7 linked regions of the Homo sapiens genome follow. The protein of the gene in region 6 interacts with the protein of the main gene of each other region in a biochemical or structural test. Each region holds a gene or a part of one and is shown on either strand. Other genes may lie near its edges. The genes, in order: MAP2K2, RASSF6, DGKZ, SLCO1C1, DGKK, SIPA1L1 and SLC15A5.

Evidence for each region.
Region 1: the proteins of SIPA1L1 (region 6) and MAP2K2 interact in a test that uses a peptide from one of them, tested with the Homo sapiens proteins (one large-scale study listed by IntAct).
Region 2: the proteins of SIPA1L1 (region 6) and RASSF6 interact in a test that uses a peptide from one of them, tested with the Homo sapiens proteins (one large-scale study listed by IntAct).
Region 3: the proteins of SIPA1L1 (region 6) and DGKZ interact in a test that uses a peptide from one of them, tested with the Homo sapiens proteins (one large-scale study listed by IntAct).
Region 4: the proteins of SIPA1L1 (region 6) and SLCO1C1 interact in a test that uses a peptide from one of them, tested with the Homo sapiens proteins (one large-scale study listed by IntAct).
Region 5: the proteins of SIPA1L1 (region 6) and DGKK interact in a test that uses a peptide from one of them, tested with the Homo sapiens proteins (one large-scale study listed by IntAct).
Region 7: the proteins of SIPA1L1 (region 6) and SLC15A5 interact in a test that uses a peptide from one of them, tested with the Homo sapiens proteins (one large-scale study listed by IntAct).

What each region holds. Positions count from the first base shown.
Region 1 is NC_000019.10:4,103,623-4,107,122, forward strand, and holds part of MAP2K2 (dual specificity mitogen-activated protein kinase kinase 2), read right to left. Parts: intron 1-3,500. UniProt on the Homo sapiens protein: Catalyzes the concomitant phosphorylation of a threonine and a tyrosine residue in a Thr-Glu-Tyr sequence located in MAP kinases. Activates the ERK1 and ERK2 MAP kinases.
Region 2 is NC_000004.12:73,610,437-73,613,936, forward strand, and holds part of RASSF6 (ras association domain-containing protein 6), read right to left. Parts: intron 2,808-3,500; exon of another isoform or gene 2,694-2,807; intron 1,394-2,693; coding exon of another isoform or gene 1,360-1,393; coding exon 1,295-1,359; intron 1,241-1,294; exon of another isoform or gene 1-1,240.
Region 3 is NC_000011.10:46,353,963-46,357,462, forward strand, and holds part of DGKZ (diacylglycerol kinase zeta), read left to right. Parts: intron 1-3,500. UniProt on the Homo sapiens protein: Diacylglycerol kinase that converts diacylglycerol/DAG into phosphatidic acid/phosphatidate/PA and regulates the respective levels of these two bioactive lipids.
Region 4 is NC_000012.12:20,747,332-20,750,608, forward strand, and holds part of SLCO1C1 (solute carrier organic anion transporter family member 1C1), read left to right. Parts: intron 1-3,277. UniProt on the Homo sapiens protein: Mediates the Na(+)-independent high affinity transport of organic anions such as the thyroid hormones L-thyroxine (T4), L-thyroxine sulfate (T4S), and 3,3',5'-triiodo-L-thyronine (reverse T3, rT3) at the plasma membrane.
Region 5 is NC_000023.11:50,380,326-50,383,825, reverse strand, and holds part of DGKK (diacylglycerol kinase kappa), read left to right. Parts: intron 1-1,222; coding exon 1,223-1,330; intron 1,331-3,500. UniProt on the Homo sapiens protein: Diacylglycerol kinase that converts diacylglycerol/DAG into phosphatidic acid/phosphatidate/PA and regulates the respective levels of these two bioactive lipids.
Region 6 is NC_000014.9:71,739,093-71,741,709, reverse strand, and holds the end of SIPA1L1 (signal-induced proliferation-associated 1-like protein 1), read right to left. Parts: coding exon 2,549-2,617; 3' UTR 501-2,548; downstream 1-500.
Region 7 is NC_000012.12:16,187,985-16,190,685, reverse strand, and holds the end of SLC15A5 (solute carrier family 15 member 5), read left to right. Parts: intron 1-870; coding exon 871-1,018; 3' UTR 1,019-2,201; downstream 2,202-2,701. UniProt on the Homo sapiens protein: Proton oligopeptide cotransporter.

The sequences.
Region 1 (3,500 bases), on a different chromosome or scaffold from region 6:
GGCTTTCATTCACATGGGTGGGAGGAGCCGGGGGAGAAATCCTGGGACTCAGGGGTGCCCGGGTTGCCGCTCTCTGGCCACTTCTGCCCAGCTAGGCTTGGAGAGAAAGGCCGAAGGCAGTTCTAGAAAACCCAACACGCTTTGAGACCTCTAAAGCATACACGTGACTCCATCCACCAGCTCCAGGCTGAAGACGCAGACACACAGGGTGAGAGGGCAGGTATGGCCAGGGCTCAGACAGCCCAGGAGGAGGTGCCAGGACGGGAGCTCCAGTGAGCCAGGGCCAGGTGGAAGCTGCTTCTATTCTCAGTTTTTATCAATCTACCTTAAAAGAATTACTTAAAATGAGGCCGGACATGGGCTGGGAGCGGTGACTCACGCCTGTAATGCCAGGACTTTGGGAGGCTGAGGCAGGCGGATCACTTGAGGTCAGGAGTTTGAGACCAGCCTGGCCAATATGGTAAAACCCCATCTCCACTAAAAATAAAAAAAATTAGCTGGGCGTGGTGGTGGATGCCTGTAATCTCAGCTACTCGGGAGGCTGAGGCAGGAAGATCACTTGAACCTGGGAGGCAGAGGTTGCTGTGAGTCGAGATCGTGCCACTTCTCTCTCGCCTGGGCGAGAGAGCAAGACTCCTCAATTAAAAAAAAAAAAAAAAAAAGCCGCACGTGGTGGCGCACACCTATAATCCTACCACTTTGGGAGGCCAAAGCAAAAAGAATGCTTGAGCTGAGGAGTTTGAGACCATCCCGAGCCACACAGTGAGACCCCATACCAAAATCAGCCGGGCGTGGTGGTGCACGCCTGTAGTCCCAGCTACTCAGAAGGCTGAGGTGGGAGGATCCCTTGAACCTGGGAGGTCAAGGTTGCAGTGAGCCGAGATCACACCACTGCACTCCAGCCTGGGTGACAGAGCAAGACCCTGTCTCAAAAAAACAAAAACCAGAAAGAGACCAACGACTCGAAAGAGGCAGGGTGGCGAAAACCAAACAGACGCACCAAACGCAACCCTAAAACCCCTGCTCCCCAGCACAGCTCCTTCCGTCTTCGTTTCTCCTGGGGCCGCAATCAATGTTTGTTTAGTGAGAAAATTCAAAGAGCCTCTCCCCGGAGATGAGGGCGGGCGGAGCGCTGTGCTGCAGCCTCAGGAGCTGGTGGAAGACGCCTCACAGGAGCATCGCTCTCTCTGCAGCCGCCTTTCTCCACTGTGACATCGGGGCCAGGTCACTCTCTGGGGTGGGGCCGACCTGGGCACTGCAGGGCGCTGAGTAGCGTCCCTGGCCTCCATCCACTCCACGCCAGGAGCATCCCCCAGTTGTGACAACCACACACATCCCCAGACAGTGCCAGGTGTCTCCTGGGAGGGAGAACTGCCCCTGGTTGAGAAGGGCTGATCTCCAGCTATAAAGACCAAAGTCTGGCAGGGTAAGCAATTTGTCTGAGTCACAGAGACAGGATGTGGTGCAGGGGGTATTGCAGCTGTGTACTGCTGACCCCAAATCTCACTCTGTGCATGACCATACACGTCTACCGTGTGTGTGTGTGTGTGTGTGTGTGTGTGTGTGTGTGTGTGTGTGTGTGATGTTTAAAATGGTCTTGTAACTGTAATTTTGTTACGTAGGTAGTAGGTGAACACATTTTTCTTTCTTTTTTTTTTTTTCCTGAGGCGGAGTCTCGCTCTGTTGCCCAGGCGGGGGTGCAGTGGCACCATCTCGGCTCACTGCAAGCTCCGCCTCCCGGGTTCACGCCATTCTCCTGCCTCAGCCTCCTGAGTAGCTGGGACTACAGGTGCCCGCCACCACACTCGGCTAATTTTTTGTATTTTTAGTAGAGATGGGGTTTCACTACTGGTGTTAGCCAGGATGGTCTCGATCTCCTGACCTCGTGATCCGCCCGCCTCGGCCTCCCAAAGTGCTGGGATTACAGGCTTGAGCCACCGCACCCGGCAAACACATTTTTCTTATAAAAAATTCAAATGAGGATAAATAACCTGGACGCCGCATCACTTCCACCATTCCCCCCTCAAGTGTGACTTATATTGTTCCAGATCTTTCTTCATCTCTCTCTTTCTTTCTTTCAGGCAGGGGTCGCCCAGACTGCAGCATAGTGCTGTGATCTTGGCTCACTGCAGCCTCCACCTCCTTGGTTCAGGCAGTCCTCCCACCTCAGCTTCCCAAGTAGCTGGGAGTACAGGCGCGCCACCATGTCCTGCTAATTTTTTGTAGAGACGGGGGTTCCTCATGTTGCCCAGGCTGCTCTCGAAGTCCTGGCTGAAGAGGTCCTCCCACTTCAGCCTCCCAAAGTGCTGGGATCACAGGAGTGAGCACCTGGCCCCCGCATCTTGCTGTGTATTTGGAAACACAGACTCGGGACTCACTCTCTTGCCCAGGCTGTAGAGCAGTGGCTCAATCATAGCTCACTGCAGCCTCGACCTACTGGGCTCATGGGATTCTCCCAAAGCACTGGGATTAAAGCATGCTTGCCCAGCCAGAGTTTAAAACAACATCGAAATGGGCTCATGTCTGTAATCCCAGCACTTTGGGAGGCCGAGGCAGGAGGGTCACTTGTGGCCAGGAGTTCAAGACCAGTCTGGGCAATATGGAGAGACCCTATCTCTACACAAATAAGCAAATAAATTAGCTGTGCATGGTGGCTCACGCCTGTGGTCTCAACTACTCGGGAGGCTGACGTGGGAGGACAGCACCAGTACACTCCAGGCTGGACAACTGAGCAAGACCCTGACTTGAAAATACAATAAACAAATGAATGGGCCAATGCTATGTTTATTTTATTTTTCTTTTATTTTGAAATGGAGTCTTGCTGTCGCCAGGCTGGAGTGCAGTGGCATGATCTCGGCTCACTGCAACCTCCGCCTCCCGGGTGCATGTGATTCTCCTGCCTCAGCCTCCTGAGGAGCTGGGACTACAGGCGTGCGCCACCATGCCCAGCTAATTTTGTATTTTTAGTATAGATGGGGTTTCACCATGTTGGCCAGGATGGTCTTGAACTCTTGACCTCGTGATCCGCCTGCCTTGGCCTCCCAAAGTGCTAGGATTACAAACGTGAGCCACTGCACCCAGCCCATGCTATGTTTATTTTCTACAACCACCCCTCCACTACATGAATAGTGTTGTACTGTGGGGATACTCCCATTCAGTACACCATTGTGGATTTCACTTTGCCACTGCAAAGCAGCCAAATATCATTCTTTAATCACTCCCTTACTGATGGACATGTCCAGTTTCCATTACAGTAGAACAAGACGGGCATTCTTCAGCAGATAGGACGAGACCCCCAGAAAGGCCAAGGGGCACCTCTACGAGGTCCGTAAGCCACTGGCTCTCCTTTCCCCATCCCATGAGGCCCCACTGTCCACTGGGTTCTTGCCCCGAGTTATCCAGTAATAGGTTCAGACCCCAGGGAAGCAGCCAGCCCCACTGTTCCTAAGTTCCAGTCACCAACAAGTGCTTGCCATTTTATATAAATACATCACTGGGCA
Region 2 (3,500 bases), on a different chromosome or scaffold from region 6:
ACAGCTTCTCATCTTATTTAGTGGGAAAGATCAAGCCTCATAATGGCCTATCAAACCCTACATGTTCTGAGCCCATTTGGCTTCTTCTCCTGCTGTCTTTCTACTTCCATTTCCCCACACTGTTCTCCCTGACCCTTACAAATATGCATCTGCCTTAGGGCTGTGGAGTTGCCATTCCCCTTGCCTGGAATACCTGCGAAAGCTGCATGGCTTGCTTTCTCCCTTTCTGCAGGCTTTTCCTCCAGTGCTTCCCGCTCACTGAGGAAGGAACTAGGTTATATGCAATCAGAACCCTTTCCGCTCTCTATCTCTAGCACTCTTTACTCCATTTCCTCAGCATTTATCTTATGTATTGACTGCATCCCGACTTTATGATGTAACTCCATGAGAGTAAGGGTTTTGTTTGGTTCATTACTGAATGCTCAGGGTCCAAAAATACACCTGCTCACAGTGAGTAATCAGTAAGTGTTTGAGGAATAAGTCAGTGGATCCTTTATCCTTTGCATCAGGTCTTTTTCCCACTGCTTATAGTTCATCCTTATCTTTCAGCTGTGGCTTTATTTCCATATTTGATCATATTTGTTTCCTTCACTTTCCTACTGCCCAACCCTGCATCATTCACTTCTCCTTCTCTCTGTCATTTATTTGGCTTTTTTCCTTTTTCCACCCCCCATAAGATTTGGGTCATGTTTCAGTACCACTTATTTTTTCATGATTTCATCTCCTCTCAGCCCCCAGCCTCTGCTGTAGCTTGGCCAGTTTCAGTTTTCATCTCTACTCTTATAGCTTTTAAGCCCTTACTCTATTGTTCCCAAAGCAATATGAGATACTGTTTGCTGCGTACAAGAAAAGCTGTGGATGTTGGCCATATATTGCATAATCTAATGTCAAGAGGGAACCAGTAAAAATAAAGTGTCATGAGGAGCAAGGGATGGAGAGGTTAGGACAGGACATAATGTTTTTGGCCCTGGGGTTAATTCTTTAGAACTATCATTTATGAGAAGCCTTAGATCTTTCACCTAATGCTGCTCTTCAATATTATCCCAACTATTAAAACAGAAATGTTGCTTTTAATAAAGTAAAACCACTGTTAAACAAAATATTAGTGATTGTTCCATGAGAGTAAATTTGAGAGTCTTTAGGAACATACTTTTCCAACTTCTTATCTAGTATCTCTACTGATGATTCATATTATTGATCTTGTTGACCATACATCATGCTTAGAAAACTTTGACGGTATATTCCACAAATGACTGGTGAGTAGGACAATGTATAATATAAGGTGTGTGGTTACCTGGTTATGAATGTCTTCTCATTAATGAAGATCCAAGAGGGGTACTGGTGAGCCATCATAGTCATCTTTTCCTCCTTTTTGAGATGGTCTGAGGATATCCTAAACATGAGAATAATATTAATGATTTGTTCCTATAATGCATTAAAAAATTAGTTTCTGATTTAAGTTGAGTGTTTTGTTGTGTCTCTAGAGTATAAGAAGGTTTTAGAAAGTTTTTAAGTAGTATGTCATGTGTGAGCAAAAATACAGAAAAATGTATTATGTAAATGAAAAACTACAGAAACAGTAACTCCAGACACGGATGGATTGAACAATTTGGTAAGTCTGTTTTAGATATATTTCTAGCAAAATAAATATGACTCTATTGATTTATATAATTCTGTATAAGGGAGCATATTCCTTCTATTGCAATAACTCACCCAAACTGGCTGAACCTTGCCCCAATCAGCAGAAGACAACTGCAATTCTAGGCAGCTAAAATCAAGCTCTGACTTGAAGAGTTGATTAGGTATGATGTAATATTTTTCAAGTCTCCTTCAAGCTCTGGAAACTGTGGTCAGATGTGAATAATCTCCTCCTTTATATGTTCATATAAATGGCATTAGGGTGTGACCAGAGATGTAAAGTATAATATTTTCTGTTCATTCCATTTTGCAAAAATTGAATATTCAGTTATCATGGCTCCAAGTCTATAAGATTTTAGGGGATAGAGCCAGAATAAAAAAGATGGATGAGAGAGTTCAGTTTTCTTTTTTTTTTTTTTTTAAAAAAAAAAACGTTGTGTATAAGGGGGTGGATTTCCTCCTTTTCCTTTCAAATCTGGTTATTTGGGTTGGGTAAGATGAATAAAAATTAGGAAATTATATGTCCTAACTCTTCAGAGTACCAGGAAAAAAAGAAAACAGGAAAGCTATTCTTCTATTCTCATAAAATCTCTGATGCATATTTTTCTTTATAGCATGTTGTTAAACTCACTAGGTACTTTGTTACAGTTTTCAGGGTGAATGCTTGGCTGGAGTCTCATTTTAGGCTTTTATCATTCCGATCATCCCATCACCTATTTGGTCACAAACCATCTTGGTATCTTTCTTAATAAATACAGCCCAAGTCCCTTAACCTGACTCTCAAGTTTTCTTCAATTCCACTCAAACCTACCTTTCCAGGCTCCAAATTGAAACATTTCTTCAACACCAGGCCTTGTAATCTAATGAAATTTCATGTCATTGAGTCTTTTCTCACCCATTTCCCCTGGCAGCAGAGGGCCCTCCTCACTGCAGGTCCAGATATCTGGTCCCTTTTAGTCCCCAGTGGGAAATCTTAAAGTCTCCCCATGTCCTTTGAATCCACACTGTTGTCATCATTCTGCTTTCTACCTTGTATTGTCATTATTGATTTATACCTTACTTTCTTTTCTATTGCTATCTTCTTGCTCAAAGAATTGTGCTTCTCTAGTTGGAAATGGCATCCTCTGATAGCACATCATTGGCAGGTCTCATGCAGGACACCTGGAGGACTCATACCAGAGACACAGAAGCTTAGTCACCAGGCAAAGTAATTCTATACGTCAGAAGCCACATGGGCATTTTATGCTGCCTTGGGCACACAGACACAACATGCTCCATGAGCCCAGTGAATCCCAGTTACTTATTCACAGGATTTGGTCTGGGCAACTTGGTTATACAGGTTACACAGGTTCCTCCAGCTTCTCAAACTTGAGTTTTGCCCCTGGATTTTGTCATTCTAATAACCCACCAAAAGGGTTATTAATGTCCCCGACTGAAATCCCCCAGTGATGACCCTGGGGTCCAAACACTTCCTTCTTCCTCCTGGGTCCAGATTATTTATCATATATTCCTTTAATTTAGCCCTACCTCCACCTCTCCATCCATGTTCCAAGAGCCTATACCTTGCCAAAGAGTTCACTTCTCTCCTCATTTCTCGGCCTCTTAGCAACATTTGACAAGATTGATTTTCCTACCTTTTAAAACACTTTCTTCTTGATGCTTTTGAGACAAACCATGAATAACAATCACCTCACTCTATTTTCCTGCTATCTCACAGGCCTCAACACTAGTCTCCTTTGCTGATTCCTCCTTTGTATGATCACTAAATACTGGCTTGTTTGAGTGTCCATTCTCAGCCATCCTTTCTTCTCTATCTATACATTCTTCCAGGTAATCGAATCTGTCTCCATCCCATAATCTCT
Region 3 (3,500 bases), on a different chromosome or scaffold from region 6:
TTTACAGAGAGAGGCGGGGGCGGTTGTGAAAGGGGGCAAGCTGGTTCTTGCTCCCCAACCCACACGGACACCCCACTGACACAGCCTGCCACCACCCACCCACCTCTGGAAGGCATCCCCTTGGGGGAGACCTTCCTTCCATCCTGAGGGCCCTGAAAGGGTGAGGGACAGGCTGCCAAAACCATCCCTGGTAGACCCAGGGAGCTCTAGGGGGCTGGTCTCCCTCAAGGGGTCTTTTGTAGGACACAGGATCTCCCTCTGTCACCCAGGCTGGAGTGCAGTGGCACAATCATAGCTCACTGTAATTTCAAACCCCTAGGCTCAAGCAATCCTTCCACCTCAGCCTCCCGAGTAGCTAGGACTATAGGTGGGGGCCCCCATACCGGGCTCATTTTTTCTTTCTTTCTTTCTTTTGTAGAGACGAGGTCCTGCTATGTTGCCCAGGTTGGTCTCGAACTCCTGGCCTTAAGTGATCCTCCCACCTTGGCCTCCTGAGTTGCTGAGATTACAGGCCTGAGCCACTGTGCCCAGCCTCTGGAGTCTTTTTAAGAAATGATTTTGAAATCTTTCTAAACACATTAAATATCTTGGCGTTAGAAAAGTGTGCAGAATAAGGTGACACCTACTGCCTAGCTTGGTTGGAGCTTAGCATTAGGCCATATTTGCTTTAGATAGAGATGGAGGCCCCTGTGTCTTACTCCCTGGAGGAAACCACAATTCTGATTTTGGTGTGTGTGATGTTCTTGTGCCTGTTTTTAAAATTGTCCTACATAGGTATTCATGCCTAGCAACATACAGTGCTGTTTCGTATGATTTTACTCTGGTTTAAATGGTATACCAGGCATATTCTGCATTTAGGTTTTTCCCTCAATATTGTTTTGGAGATTTAACCATCCTAAACATGAATTCTCACGGATCCATTTTAACCTCCACGTCCGATTCCATTGTGTAACAGCAGCTTATTTGCCCAGGCTCTGTTGACGGACACTTGGGTGGTGTGCAGTTTTTCGCTATTGCAAGCGATCCCTCTGTGTTCTCTCCACCAGTGCTTGCTCACAGGGTCTGTGTATTTTCAGCTTAGACAGATGTTGCCAAATTGTGCTCCGAAGTAGTTGTCCTAATTTTTAGGCCTCTGTGTTTATTTTTTTATTTTATTTTATTTTTTTGAGACAGAGTCTCACTCTCGCCCAGGCTAGAGTGCAGTGGTGCGATCTCGGCTCACTGCCAGCTCTGCCTCCCGGGTTCAGGCCATTCTCCTGCCTCAGCCTCCCAAGTAGCTGGGACTACAGGCGCCCGCCACCACGCCCGGCTAATTTTTTGTATTTTTAGTAGAGACGGGGTTTCGCCATGTTAGCCAGGATGGTCTCGATCTCCCGACCTCGTGATCCGCCCGCCTCAGCCTCCCAAAGTGCTGGGATTACAGGCATGAGCCACCGCGCCCGGCTATTTTCTTTCTTAAAACTTTCAGTAAACTGGGGAATTGTTTCCCAGGAACAAACACTTTCTCCTTCAAGCCTGCAACACTCCCTTGAGAGAGACGAGGGTGGGCATTAGCCCTATTTATCAGATCAGGAAACTGAGGCTGAGGCAGGTTAAAAGGCTTAGCTTGAGGTCATGTAGCTGGTCAGAGGCAGATCCTCTGGGCCTTTGAAGCTAAACCTACTGTGAAGGCCTTTGTCCCCTGTGTGAGTAGTGTGGAAGCCTGGAGAGTGGGGTGGGGCCCTGGGGGCTGATGGGGGAGGGAGCAACATGGTCAGAAAGTTGAGGGGGGAGGTGTTAAATTTTTTTTTTTTCTTTTTTTGAGATGGAGTTTTGCTCTTGTTGCCCAGGTTGGAGCGCAATGGCGCGGTCTCGGCTCACCGCAACCCCTGCCTCTGAGGTTCAAGCGATTCACCTGCCTCAGCCTCCCAAGTAGCTGGGATTACAGGCATGGGCCACCACACCCGGCTAATTTTGTATTTTTAGTAGAGATGGAGTTTCTCCATGTTGGTCAAGCTGGTCTCGAGCTCCTGACCTCAGGTGATCTGCCCGCCTCAGCCTCCCAAAGTGCTGGGATTACAGGCATGAGCCACCCGCCCGGCCAGGGTGTTAATATTGAATGAGGGGTGAGGGGGAAATGCTTCTCCCAGCAGATGGGGAATGGGAGCCCTCTGCAGACACAGGAGAAGACAAGGATGGGACGGTCACCAGAGAAGAGTGGGGGCCCGCGAGGGGTTTATAACAAAGGGGCCCCTTTGGGAGGCTAAGGGAGATATATTGGCATTCCCATCAGGGATCGGTTTCAGTGTTGCCTCTGAGACACCAGAGCTCAGCCCAGACCAGACTTGTCCACCCAGTGCAGCAGGAAGTTCTCGGGAGCTGGCCCACTCCTGGGGCTCTGTGCCCACCTGAAGCCTGTGCTGTCAGCGGGATCCATGAGGCTGAGTCCAGACCATGCGCTGTTCCCTCCACTCACTCTTCAAACCACACCCAGCACTTCTACACTCTGGGGATGCCATTAGAAGCAATGTGAGGCCCTGGGGCTCACAGCCTGTCCGGGGATGCAGATTTGCACATTAGTGCTGATTGCCCAGGGTCTGAGAGGAAAACCATGAGGGAGAATTCACTGAGTAGAGAGGGGAGTGGTATTCCAGGTAGGGAGACCACCGGATGCCACGTGGTGCCACGTGGAAAAGGGACCCGCGGTGTTTTGTTTGCCAGAAGCATCCAGGGTGGAGCCTGAGGGGTCGAGGGTATGTGCCATGGAACACACTACTGAGTTCAAACCCCAGCACTGCCACATGTTAGCTGGACGACTTCAGGCAAATGACTTAACCGCTTTGTCTCTCAGTTTCCTCATCTGCAATATGAGGATACGGGCCATGGGGATAAGAATACCAACTATTCTTAGGAGGATTCGTAGCTTAATATTTGTAAAAACACTTAGAGTAGTGTCTGGTGGAGTGAGTTATGTAAGTGTCAAATACAGCATTAAAAATATGAAAGAGCAGAGAGGAGGCTGGGAGGCCTGTTGCCTGCCAGCCCCAGGTCTTTGCATTTTGCTCAGCTGACAGTAGAGTCAGTAAAAGGTGATTGGGTGCTTTAGGATGAATTCTGATGGCAGCGGGAGTCTGGCTTGGAGGGAGGCACTAAAGGAATGGGTTGGTCATTTGTTGCGCAAACATCTCTTTGAGGCCTAGCAGGGGCTGAGTCAGGGACTCGGATGTGAAAGAAGAGACTGGGGGTATTTCACCAAGGAGCTCAGGCCAGCTTAGGATCCCCGCCTAGCCCCCAAGCCTCTGAGACAGCCCCTCCTCCCCTTTCCTTGCCCACCACCCTCCCCTTGTGACTTCATGTCACCAAACCGACTATCTAGTTTTCATGAGAAAGCCATGGAGAACATGGAGCGGGCGATAGCATCCAGCCCAGAAAGGGGCCTCCAGGTGTCACTCTTGGGGTCCTCTAGAGAGGAGAGGAAGGTGGCCACCCAAACCAAGGCTGTTGCCATCCCCTTGTACCCA
Region 4 (3,277 bases), on a different chromosome or scaffold from region 6:
GTCACAAGAATTGCTTGAACCCAGGAGGCAGAGGTTGCAGTGAGCCAAGATTGTGCCACTGCACTCCAGCTTGGGTGACAGAGGGAGACTCTGTCTCAAAAAAAAATAGAGTTCAGAATGGGGAGAGAGATGAAACAGCAATGGCAAAACATTAATAATTGTCAAAGCTATGATGGTACATGAGGGTTAATTATATCATTCTGTCTGCTTTTGTGAATTTTTGAAAATGTTCTATTATAATAATCTTAAACCACGTACAGAAAATTGCAAACATTTGAATTTTTTTGGCTTGTCTTCACATCATTAAAGGTAATGTAAAATTGGTTATCACCTGGATTTTTTAAGTGGTAAATCATATATTTGTTTGGTTTTTGAGGCACCAAATAATCCAAATTTAATTCAAAATTTTCTGCTCTTCTTGTTCTTGGGGTTTCAAGCAAAATAGAGGGGATCATTTGTTATTTAAAAATGTAAACATATACAAAGATAGCAAGAACTGTCTTTGTATACAGCAAAGATAGCAATGAACTCCCATTTATCAATTACCCAATTTCAACAATTATCAATACACAGCTCATCTTAGGACATCTGTGTCCCTAACTACTTACCCAACTAGCTTATTTTGAAGTAAGTCTCAGACTACTGTATTTCTTCTATAACATGTTTGGTGTGCTCTTCTAATCAAAACCATAATGACTTGTTTTAATCTGGTGATTCTTGCATCTTAAAAAATAACTTCTTAATATTAGCAAATACCCAATTACTGCTTAAATTCTTTAAATTATCTGATGTTTCCTTACACATGTAGGTTTGAATTAAGAACCAAACAAGGTCCACAATTGCATTAGGTGATATATCTCTAAAATCTTTTTTAATCCATAGGCTTTACTTCCCTCTTTCTCTCCCATTTGTTGCGAAAATTTCAAATCTACCAAAAAATTTAAATTACAATGAATAACTGTATAACTTTTACTGGGATTTATCAACTGTGTCCAAAAACCAGAAATCTCTCTCCTCTGTTTCTCTGAGCATACAAATATTTTGCTGAATCATTTGAAAATAAGTAGTGAACATGCTGACACCTCACTCCCAAAGCCCTCAACTTGTGTTCTTCTACTAGAGCAAATCTATATATAGACTTGTCCTATATAACCACAATACCATTCTCACACTTCAGAAATTCAACATTGATATGCTACTCTATCTAATATAATCCCTCATTCAAATTTCTTTCATTATAACAATAGTGTCTTCTATAGTGTTTTATTTTTTCTTTTGATCCAAGGTCAAAGACCACATATTGCATTTAGTTACCTTTCTTTATCTCCAAAAATTCCTCATTCTTATTTTTTTGTTCTTTTGTGACATTTATATTTTTTTCAAGAGGCAAAGCCAGTTGTTTTGTAAAATATCCCAACTATTGGATGTGTTTGTTTGCTTGTGAGTATGTCCAGGTAAAATATTGTTGGTGGCAATACTACACACGTGATTTGCATGATGCTTAGTAAATCATATCAGGAAGCACATCATTTCAGTTTATACCTCATTGGAATTTTAATTTTGGTCCCTTGGTGAAGGTGGTGTCTACCAGTTTTCTCCATTGAAAAATCCTTCTGCAGTTAATAAGTCACCTATAATTTGACACTTCGAGATTATGTCACCATTCTGTTTCCCAAAAATCTTTCACCCAAAATTTTAGCAGCCATCGATGAGTCTGGATTGAATCAATTATTTACATGAGTATTTGCAAAGTTTAGGTAAACCTTTACATAGAAAATATTTTCAAATATTTTCATTTGTTTTCAAAGAACAAATGGATAATCTCTGAAATTTAGAAGTGTCATAAATATTCTTAGATGACTTTAAAAATTTAGTGAGATTATTTTGTTCAATATAAGCATACAAAGCAATTTTATAACAGAAGAAAACATATACAAAAAAGGTTAAAACTCAAATGCCGGAAACAACCAGACAGTTGATGGAAACGAGTGATGTAGGCAGAGAGAAAGCTGTATGGACTTGTGGTGGACTCCAAGTGTAGGCAGCGGTTGGGGGAGTGAGGCAGCTGCTGCTTAACTCCAGCCAACTATGACCATGGACTGCCAGACAACATGGTTCTTAAGAGAACTCAGAAGTGTGCAAGTTTATATGAAATCTCCTAGGTTTCAGCTATTGGCTACTAACTAAAAAACAAAATCCCAAAGTCTACACAGACTAAATAACCAATGTTAATGAACCACCAATTTAGAACATATAAAATATACACTGAGCTATGAACAACTGCTTAAGATACTTTCGTTAATATTTGCACATGAGAGACACATTTTCTCCCTAAGGAGGGATTAAATTCCTAACATTTTCTGAGAACCTACTAGGGTTTCTGGCATGAATAAGGAGGACATGTTTCCTACCGTGGTGAGCTTACAGTCTAGCAGAGAAGGCAATTCAACAAGCTATTACAGGAGTATTTAAAGTTTGATGAGATGTAAAACAATGAGAATTAATGCAGTTTAGTTTATCAAAATGAACTGAAGGAAAACGTTCAAACTTGGATTTTAAAAGTGAGTGTGTATTAAGAATGTGAATAAGAGAAAATCATTGCTTGGGATAAAGGAAACTACACAAGGCATTCAGACAAGAGGAGAGAACATTTTAGTCACTGAAAGAAATCCAAGAAAATTTGAGTCTGAAATGTAAGACAACAATCTTGCCCAAAGTGAGGCCACAAAAGTAGAAAGACCCAATGTTCAGTTAACTACTCTTCTTTTGGAACAGATGTCTTGGGAAGTCACCTACTTAATTCAGTGATGCAACCTCTGTATGATGTACAGATTTGAGAAGGTTAATGAATGAAGCCAAGGAATCATGAATTGGCTGTTGCTTTAAGTTAGGGTAGAAGGAGTGGCAGTGGGAATGGAAAGAAGAGAAAGTGTTTAAGATATACCTAATAGATAGACTCAGTATGATTCCGGGACAGATTAAATATAGTGATAGCCAGAGAGAGGAGAAAGAAGGATCAATGATAACTCACAAGTCTGCTTTAATGACTGGGCTTCCACTGATAAAGGGACAGGTCTATAGGGGAAGAAGTTGAGCTCATGTTGAGTTTGAAGTGCCTGAGTGACATGCTTCTGGAGATAAATAAATGGCAGTTACTGCATGATTCTGGAGCTTATGAGAAAAGACTGGATTAGAGAGATAGGTTTGGGAGATTTCAGCATGTAATTGATGGCCTTTCATCTCCAAAACAGTAATTAGATTAAAGTAAGTGGTTTCA
Region 5 (3,500 bases), on a different chromosome or scaffold from region 6:
TTTTTTTCACTGTTGCCCTTAACAGTAAATGGTTGAAGATACTAAAAACTAAAATGGTCACTAGGGGACTAGGCAGCAAATCTAAGGACATCTGTCTCACCAGTTCTCCCTCTTTAGAATATCGGCAGCAGCCAAGTTCTGCCACACTCACTCATTCTGAGTTCCATTAAGAAGATCAGTTTGGACATTAGTTAGAGAAACTCCAATCTCTGGACTGTGGTTGAGGGAGGCAAATCTCATGTGAGAGATGTAAGGTCAGTATGGTAATGAATAAAAAAGTAATCTAAGATTAAACAGCTAAACTGTATCCATTTAATTTCTCAAAAGGACACAGCTAGAAATTATTTATGTTTTCTTAAATAATTTATTTAAGAAAACAATTTTTATTCCTGTCTCCAACCCGCATTCTTGCCCCCACACTTCACCATTGGCTCAAATTTATGTCTGAGCTCTCATGGATCTACCTAATGAATTTTGATCAATAGTGCACTGGCAAAGTGTTTAACAACCTCCTCTCTTGGGGGAGAAAGCCCTGATTCATTTATGGTGTAAACCCTTCCACCATGGCCTATTTAAGTTAGTGATATAATGCCATTGAATCTGGAGTTGGAAAGAGATATGCATAATCAGTTTACATGAGCTGGTGCCAACTGGCTATGGCACACCACTGGTTTTGATGCTGACACCCTAGATGGACACAGGAGACTTGACAAATAATTTGGCTTTTTTGTTATGTACATATCTACCCTCTTTTATCAGTCTTTCCTTCCAAATGTGTGGTCATTTTCCCCTTTGATGTCGGACATCACTGAGAGCAGTTGTGCAGACTTAACTGTCATGGCACGTTTGTGTCTAGGATATTCAAAAGTTCTTTATAGGAGTAAACAGTATTTCCCTTAATACTACATATGAAGAAAATATGGGCCACTCATACATAAGGCCTCCAAAGATGACTAAAATCATCAATGTTGCTTCTTTATTATGAGTTCCAATCCCACTGAAGCTTCCCAACTGGCGAGGCACTCCCTCTTACAGCTAATAAGCTAGTTGTTCACACAAAAGGATATCTACATGTGCCTCTCAAAAATGTTATAGTTAGTGCCCAGTGTGGAGGGGGCCTTCCCTCACTGGTTTTCCATCATGCAGATTCATCTTCATGCCCAATTGATAGCGGCACTTCTTTCCTGCACCAATGTCTGTCCTCTTCTTTGAATAATTTCAGACGCTTCAAAGAAAAATGTGTCATGAACAACTACTTCGGAATTGGACTGGATGCTAAAATTTCTCTGGACTTCAACACCAGAAGAGATGAACACCCAGGGCAATACAAGTAAGGAAAAGAAACTCCCTTCCCTACATGCAAACACACTATCACAATACACATACGTATTCCTACATTCTCTACCTCTCAGACAAGCAACAGAAAGAAAGGGACCCACTGGAAGTAAAATGCATTGGCCCCAAGACTAGTCTAGCGGGACAGTGTGTGCCAAATTTTGGATGACTGCACTGGCATCCTAAACTTGAGCTGCCTTCAAATCCAGACCTGTGGATTTCTGTGTAAACACAGCTACCTGTGTTACTGTTACTGACAACAGATTATGTTGACTCAATTTAGCAAATCGCCCACCTTTGTTCTGTCTGTGAAAGTTTAACCAGGTTTCAGTAGTGGCTTCAGATCTGTTTTCACTTGACAAAGTTGCAAAGTATCAAACATCCCTCTATTTGTTTTTGGTGTTCCTAACCTGGTTCCCCTGAACCCGTTAATTTTACCCTATCCAGTGTTGGCCTGCATGGCACCTTCTCGCACTTTCATACTTCAGACAAGGCCTAAGTCAGTCTCAGAGTTCTTGTGGTACATTGAAGCTATAAGTAAAAAGTGTGACACCCCACCCCACAACACCCCACCCTTGCCACCACCACTAGAACCTCTTTCTCAAAGCAGGCCTGGGCTGAGAAACAGGAACTTTGTCAGATATGTGATTTGCAAATATTTTCTCCCAGTCTCTTGCTGGTCTTTTCATTTTCTTAGTGGTATCTTTGAAATACAAAAGTATTGAATTCTAAGGCGGTCCAATTGATCAGTTTTTTTCTTTATGGACCATGCTTTTGGTGCCATCTGTAAGAAATCTTTGCCTAATCTGAGATCTTAAAAATTTGCTCCTAAGTTTTCTTCTAAAGTTTGTATTGTTTTAGCTCTTATTAATACATTTAAGTGTATGATCTACTTTGAGTTAATTTTTACGTATAGTGTGAGGGTCTAAGGTAAGAGTCTAAGTTTATCTTTTTGCCTGTGGATATCTAATTATCTCACCACCATTTTAATTTATTTATTTGTTTATTTTTTTTATTTTCTTGGAGACGGAGTCTTGTTCTGTCGCCTAGGCTGGAGTGCAGTGGCATGATCTCGGCTCACTGCAACCTCTGCCTCCTGGGTTCAAGTAATTCTCCTGCCTCAGCCTCCCAAGTAGCTGGGACTACTGGTGCATGATACCATGCTTGACTAATTTTTTGTAATTTAGTAGAGACGGAGTTTCACCATTTTGCCCAGGCTGGTCTCGAATTCCTGAGGTCAGGCAATCCGCCCGCCTCAGCTTCCCAAAGCGATAGGATTATAGGCATGAGCCACCGCGCCCGGATCTAGAGCCATTTTTCAAAACAGCTATCCTTTCCCCAGTGAATCGTGTTGGCACCTTTGTCAAAAATCAATTGACCACAAATGCAAGGGTTTATTTCTGGACTCTCACTTCTGTTCTATTTATTTATGTGTCTATCCTATGCAAGTACCACACTATCTTGATAACTATAGCTTTACAGTAGTTTTTGAAATTGGGAGATGAAAGTCCCCCACTTGATTCTTTTTTTCAGAATTGGTTTGTTCTAGGTATTGTACATTTTCATATACCTAAACTCCTATTTTTGTAGATGAGAACACCAAAGTGCCCAGAGAATGAATGGTTTAAACAGTGTCTCAATAATTTTGTGCTAGCCTTCTGACATTTCAAAACTCATTCCATGTGATGATGGCTCATTTCTGTGGCTCTACTTTACAAGCTCCAAGTAAACTATATCCAGCCTTTCTAGTGATCGTAAGTGCCCCACCTATTTCTATCAGAGATTCCACAGTCAACAAGACGCTGTCCTCCCCACCTCCACCTCAAGTCACCTGATATCCTTTCCTGTCTCCTATTTTTCTCCACTGGCTCCTCCTCTAAAATCTCCCTACAAGCTTAGATCTGTTCCATGGCATTGAATTAGGCATTTAGTATATGGATCTGGTGTTTGGAAAAGTACTTCACTTTGCCAGAAAAGTTGCTGCTTCAAAAAAAATTGCACTCTAAGAGTCACGTGTTTCAAATGAAATTGATTCCAAGCAGCTGAAATCTCCTGGAGTAGCACAACTAGGGTAGCTGGTGTGTACCAGCCAGCTACGCTCATAGCTTTTTATGAGCATTGATGTCTGAATATAGCCTGTTTCTTCCAAGTCTGGACCAATATTG
Region 6 (2,617 bases):
AACGTATAAGCCCTCCGAACCATGTAGGAATCATGGTCTAAACAGACCTTTTTAGCTTGTTAATTGGAATATTTTGTGGCATCCATTCTTATGCTAGTCCAAGAACTCTGGAATCTGTAGAACTGTTGAACCAAATAAAAGGAAGAAACTCTACTGTCAGCACTCAATTAGCTGCGCCGCTGGAGAGGAACAGTGACGTGGTAGATTAAAAAAAAATTGGTTCGGTTTGACTTTGGAATGCACTGATTTTTTTTTCAGTAGATTAACTTTTCTAATTATATTTTGCACAGCCTAATATTAACAGGCATTTGTATTCCCTGGGCACACAACATCTGACATTGAGAGCTGGGAGATGCAGCCCAAAAATGTGCTGGTCTCAGAGAATAACAATGTTATGAAAAATCCATGCGTGGATAATGAAGGGGAAGCTAATTATGAAGTGCTCTGCAAATATTAAATCATAAGCAGAGAAGGCAAAATAGTAATTCTCTATCGACATGTGGACAGAGTAAAAAAGTTTATTAACATTCTGAGAAGGACAGAAATTTTCAAGAATCATCATTAGTGTTAACAAAGCTTGATGAAAAAATTCGGATGCAAGGAGGGTCAATGAGTTATTGGGTGGTCTTTCAAATAAGCAAACCTCAAGCAATAATACCAAAGTGTTTTAAAAGAGCGTTTAAAATGAATTTTATTCTTTGAATTTTACAGGTAGTCTTTAGAGGCTTCAAACAAGAACTCTGTTGCAAAACTCTAATAAATAGCTTGCCCCAAGTCCCCAAACAAAATGTAAAACAAAATGAGAACTAAACTCAGAAGGATAAGCAAGACTTCAGAATGCTTGGATGTTAGCAATATTTCTCATTTACAAAGAGATATCAGGCAATGTACAATCTCCTTCATACAAGTCAAAGAGAGAAAGAGACAGACAATTGAAATCTTCACAAAGCACTCCGAAATCTTCCTATTTCCATGATAGAAATGTCACCAGAAAAAAAAAATTCCATGGAGAAATCACAATCAAGAATGAAACTGTAGCATAAAAATCTGGTAGTGAATGTAGCAGGGAGAAGAGAGGAAAATCCATCCTGTTTCTTTCAGGGATGGAGAGAGGAAGGAATTGAGATTACTTGGGTGAGGGAACTTCCAATCAGATGCCGCTAGAGTGCTGAATGTTCCCTTAGACCAGAGTTGCCACTGAAAGGGCAGAGGGGTCGGTTTAGTGACAGTTATGAAGGCAACAAACAAAGGGGTCTCCTCAGGTCAGTCAACACTGGCCAGCCCCATGTCTCTGTGCTCTACAGCAGCCTTGGAAGAGTGACCCAGGGGCCCAAAGCAGCCTGCATCACAAGACAGCAAAAATAGCACATCAATAATTTCTGCAGCGGAATCCTTTGGATGGCCATGAAAGGATGCAGAAAATGCCGTGCTGAAATTTCACACTGGGACATGCAGGTTTCAAAAGCCCATTCTAGTATCACAGTCATTATTCCTAACAAGCAATGATTAAAATTCACAATTAAACATTCACTGTTAGCTTCTCCTAGTTACAAATACTGGTGAAGTCTTGCTCTGGAGAGAAAGATTAATTTAGAGATATGGTCATTTTCAGCAAGCTAAAAAAACCAGTTGTGCCACATTTTTATCTTTAAAAATCTTTAAAACGTATACTTTTGACCAAAATGCATTCAAAATGCAGACAGATAAGGTTTTAGTTTGGGGGAATTCTGAAATCAATTAATGTTTGGAGCCAGGAAGCTGTAAGAGAGATTGATTCCAATTTAGTGGGGCTCAATTAAGCCAAACAAAAAAGAGTCTTGCAGCACAAGTGGGACCATCTTCCTGGGGAAAGGGAGAAGCAGGAAATGACCTCACAATGCAGGACTGAGAAGGGGTGTGGCCTGCAGGCACTGTCAGAGCTGCTCTGGTTTACAGACTTGCTGTTAAATATTTAACTCCGGTCCTGCTGATCTCTGGAGGACAGGTACAGACAGCACTAGCTCATGCACGAGTCATTCAAGGGAGGTAGGCATTTTCTCAAAGCAACTCCCTCTCCAGGCATTTTAGGGAAGAAGGTAAGGAAATATCCCTCTCTACTCCCCAAACAAGTTATAAAAACATTCTTTTTCTAGGAATAATGATATTTGTTAGAATAACAAGGGAAAGCTTGGGTTACCTGAAGTTGATAAGAAAGCTGATGGGAATAGAGGCGGATGGGCCAGGGGGCGCCCTGGTCCAAGGCCCAGTTTCTTCTTAAATACATAACAGATAAAGATATTGTGCAAAAAAATAAAGACATTCACATTTTAGCAGTTAAACTTTTATTTTACTGTTTAAAATTTTTATTTACTTTTTTTGTTTTTCTTTTCTACAAAAGGCAGGTGATGATTGTTGATCTGCAACTATTGTGTTGTGCACTCCCCGAAAGGGGGCAGAGTAGGAAGCCAGGGAAGGTGCTCTGAGGATGCTTTCTATGGAGGGAATAAGGGCTGCAGGACACTCACTGGAGGGAGTGTCTGGGCCCTTCTCCTGTCCTCCTCAGCCTTCCCTAGCTCATGTCTATGGTGTTGAAGACCCATTCTGTGAACTTCTTCAGCTTGTCCGAGGCGTTCTGGGA
Region 7 (2,701 bases), on a different chromosome or scaffold from region 6:
AAATCAAAAATAGATGACTGACCCCATCTATTTTTGAAACTTATGTGTATGTGATAAAATTAAACTTATAGCCGATATTCATTTGTTCATTTGACAAATATTTATTGAACATCTACTATGTATCAATCACTGGGAATAAAGCAGTGAATAAAGCAATTTGAAGTTCCTATTTTGCTGGAACTTACCCGAAAGTGTTTAAGAAAGTAATTTGTCTTTAGAGGCAGTATGCCATGGAGGAAAAGCGCCAGGATTCAGAATAATCAAGTTCTGGTTCCAAATCCAAACTCTGCCAACTACTATTTCTATGAACCTTAAGCAAGTTATTTAATCTCTTGGAAACTTCAGTTTCTTAATCTGTGAAATGGGATGATTCTATCCCACCCTTGCATGGGGCTGGTACTTAGAAGACACTGGAAAGGCAGGTTTTTCTGGAGGTTGGGGATGGAGAGTGCACATTCTAGAAATATATTCATAGACTCCTTCTTTGACAATGGTGCTTTCCACATAATCTCAGCACTGAATTTACAAATTCCCAGTAAACCTCTTATGCATCCTGACCGCCATGAAATCTGTCAAGTCAATAGGCTTTCAGCCTTCTCACCATCTCTCTGTCAGCACTGAAGACAGCGTAGCAGGTTGTTAAAAAGCGCCACCTAAAGGTCCTTATGAGACACTTTACTAAGTCACAAAAACTCCTTTTGTCCTTTTAAAAAGGCTGTTTTGGTGAGCAGTGCTCTTAAATAATCGTCACTGTTGTGCCAGTATCTATGAGCCCATCATAAAAGGTAGACAAGCGCAGGAGGGAAGCAAATGATTTATCAATTCATCTACATCTGGTCCTAAGAAAAGCTTTCTTTCTTTCTTTTTTAGATATTGTAATCTAAATCATTTTAATGCCCAGAACATCCGTGGAAGTAATCTTGAAGAAACACTTCTCCTCCACGAAAAATCTCTGAAATTTTATGGCAGTATACAGGAATTTTCTTCAAGTATTGATCTTTGGGAGACAGCCCTATGAAACTGTGTTTGAGTCTACCTGTCTTATGAGAACAGTATTCATTGTTTTCTTCTTCAGTTGAGCATTTTATGTGTTTTAGTGTAAAAGCCAATATATACAGAGGTGATTTTACAAATATCATCTGTATACTTTATTTACAAAGACTAATTATGAATTTTCTAGTAAACTGTCATGCTTTTGCATTAACATGTTATAGCATTAGAATTAATAAAATAATTTCAAAGTCTCAGTGATTACTCTATGACAAAAAAAATGACAGTTTTCTATACACCAATAATACCTTACAGCTTTCTACAATGGTTCAGCCATTGAAAGCGTATGACCTTTTTTTTGGAGTTTTAATGAGTCATTAGAAGCAAAATGACAGTATTTTAATATACTCTCTTTCAATACACTTAGTGATCCCTTATTACACGTGACCTTATTACATTGTGACCATATACTGTATATAACTGAGTAAATAATAAACATATACATGATTTTCTATATTTGCTGTTAATATTATGCTATCAAAATATGACTTCATTAAGGACATTTTCTCTGAATTTAAAAGCAGTATTACTAAAATAGATGTCCTTAACAAAGAGAATGTCCGCATACTAAAAAAGTTGAAAAATAAATGTAAGTTATGGAATTATTGGAATTAAAAGAAAGAAGGAAATTAGGGAAGATAAAATGAGGGGGCTGAGAGGAGGGTAAGTGACCAAACCAAATAGAGATGCTTAAAGGAATTATATGAATAACATCTTTCGGTCTCCACTGCCAATTCAGATGCATTCAGAAAATTATCTTCTAAGAGTTTCTTCTTTCATAAGCAAAAATATGTGGAAACTCATTTTTTAAAAAATCAAATAAAATTAAAGTCTGTTTCTCAGTAGCAGTATTTGTCAACATTTGGTTGAGGACAACTTGCTACAGGTGAATCTTTCTGGCCCCTATACAGACTGCCTTAACTCAAATCTTTTTTTGAGATTGGGGTCCAGCAATTGGTGGTTTTAATAAGCACACCCAAATCATTCTCATGTTCCCTAAGGTTTAAAAGCCATTGCTTTCCAGGACAATTCATGTTGGATAGGACAGGTGAGTTTATCAGCTGACTGCAAATTATTCTGCAATTATGCACCTCCCTTGTGTATACATAAAATATTTTAGGTCTGTAGAATAAAAGATTTACTCAACTTGATTAGGTATGCTACGCATTTTTAATTGCAAAAGAGGAGCTGTAAAGCACCAGGTGTTTCTGTTACTCAAACTATTTTTTGTTTGAGGACAAATGAAAAGACTTGCTGGTACAGGCATAAATTCGTTTCCTGCAACTTTTTCAAATCCTTTCTGTTTAGCAATTGTTTCCTGGCAAAACAGTGAGGCAGACCCCTAATATTCCTTAGAAGCTTTCCTTGCTGCAAAAGGTTAAATGCCAAGTTTGCAATTTGGGTTTAATGAACACTCACAAGAGCAAGAAATCTTTAAACACTTCACCTCAGTACAAGTGAGAAGCTCTAGTCCCTCTTACTGATAGAAAAGGAGCCTGCTTTATTTTGTTCTCCCCCTCCCCACAAATTTGCCTTCATCTCCTTAATTTCTACATCATAATAGAAAAAGGTGCTCATTGTGGTTTCACTTGTCCTTAGAGCTGAAAGATCTACAGAATTATAAAGTTGACCCAAAGCAAACACCAAAAGA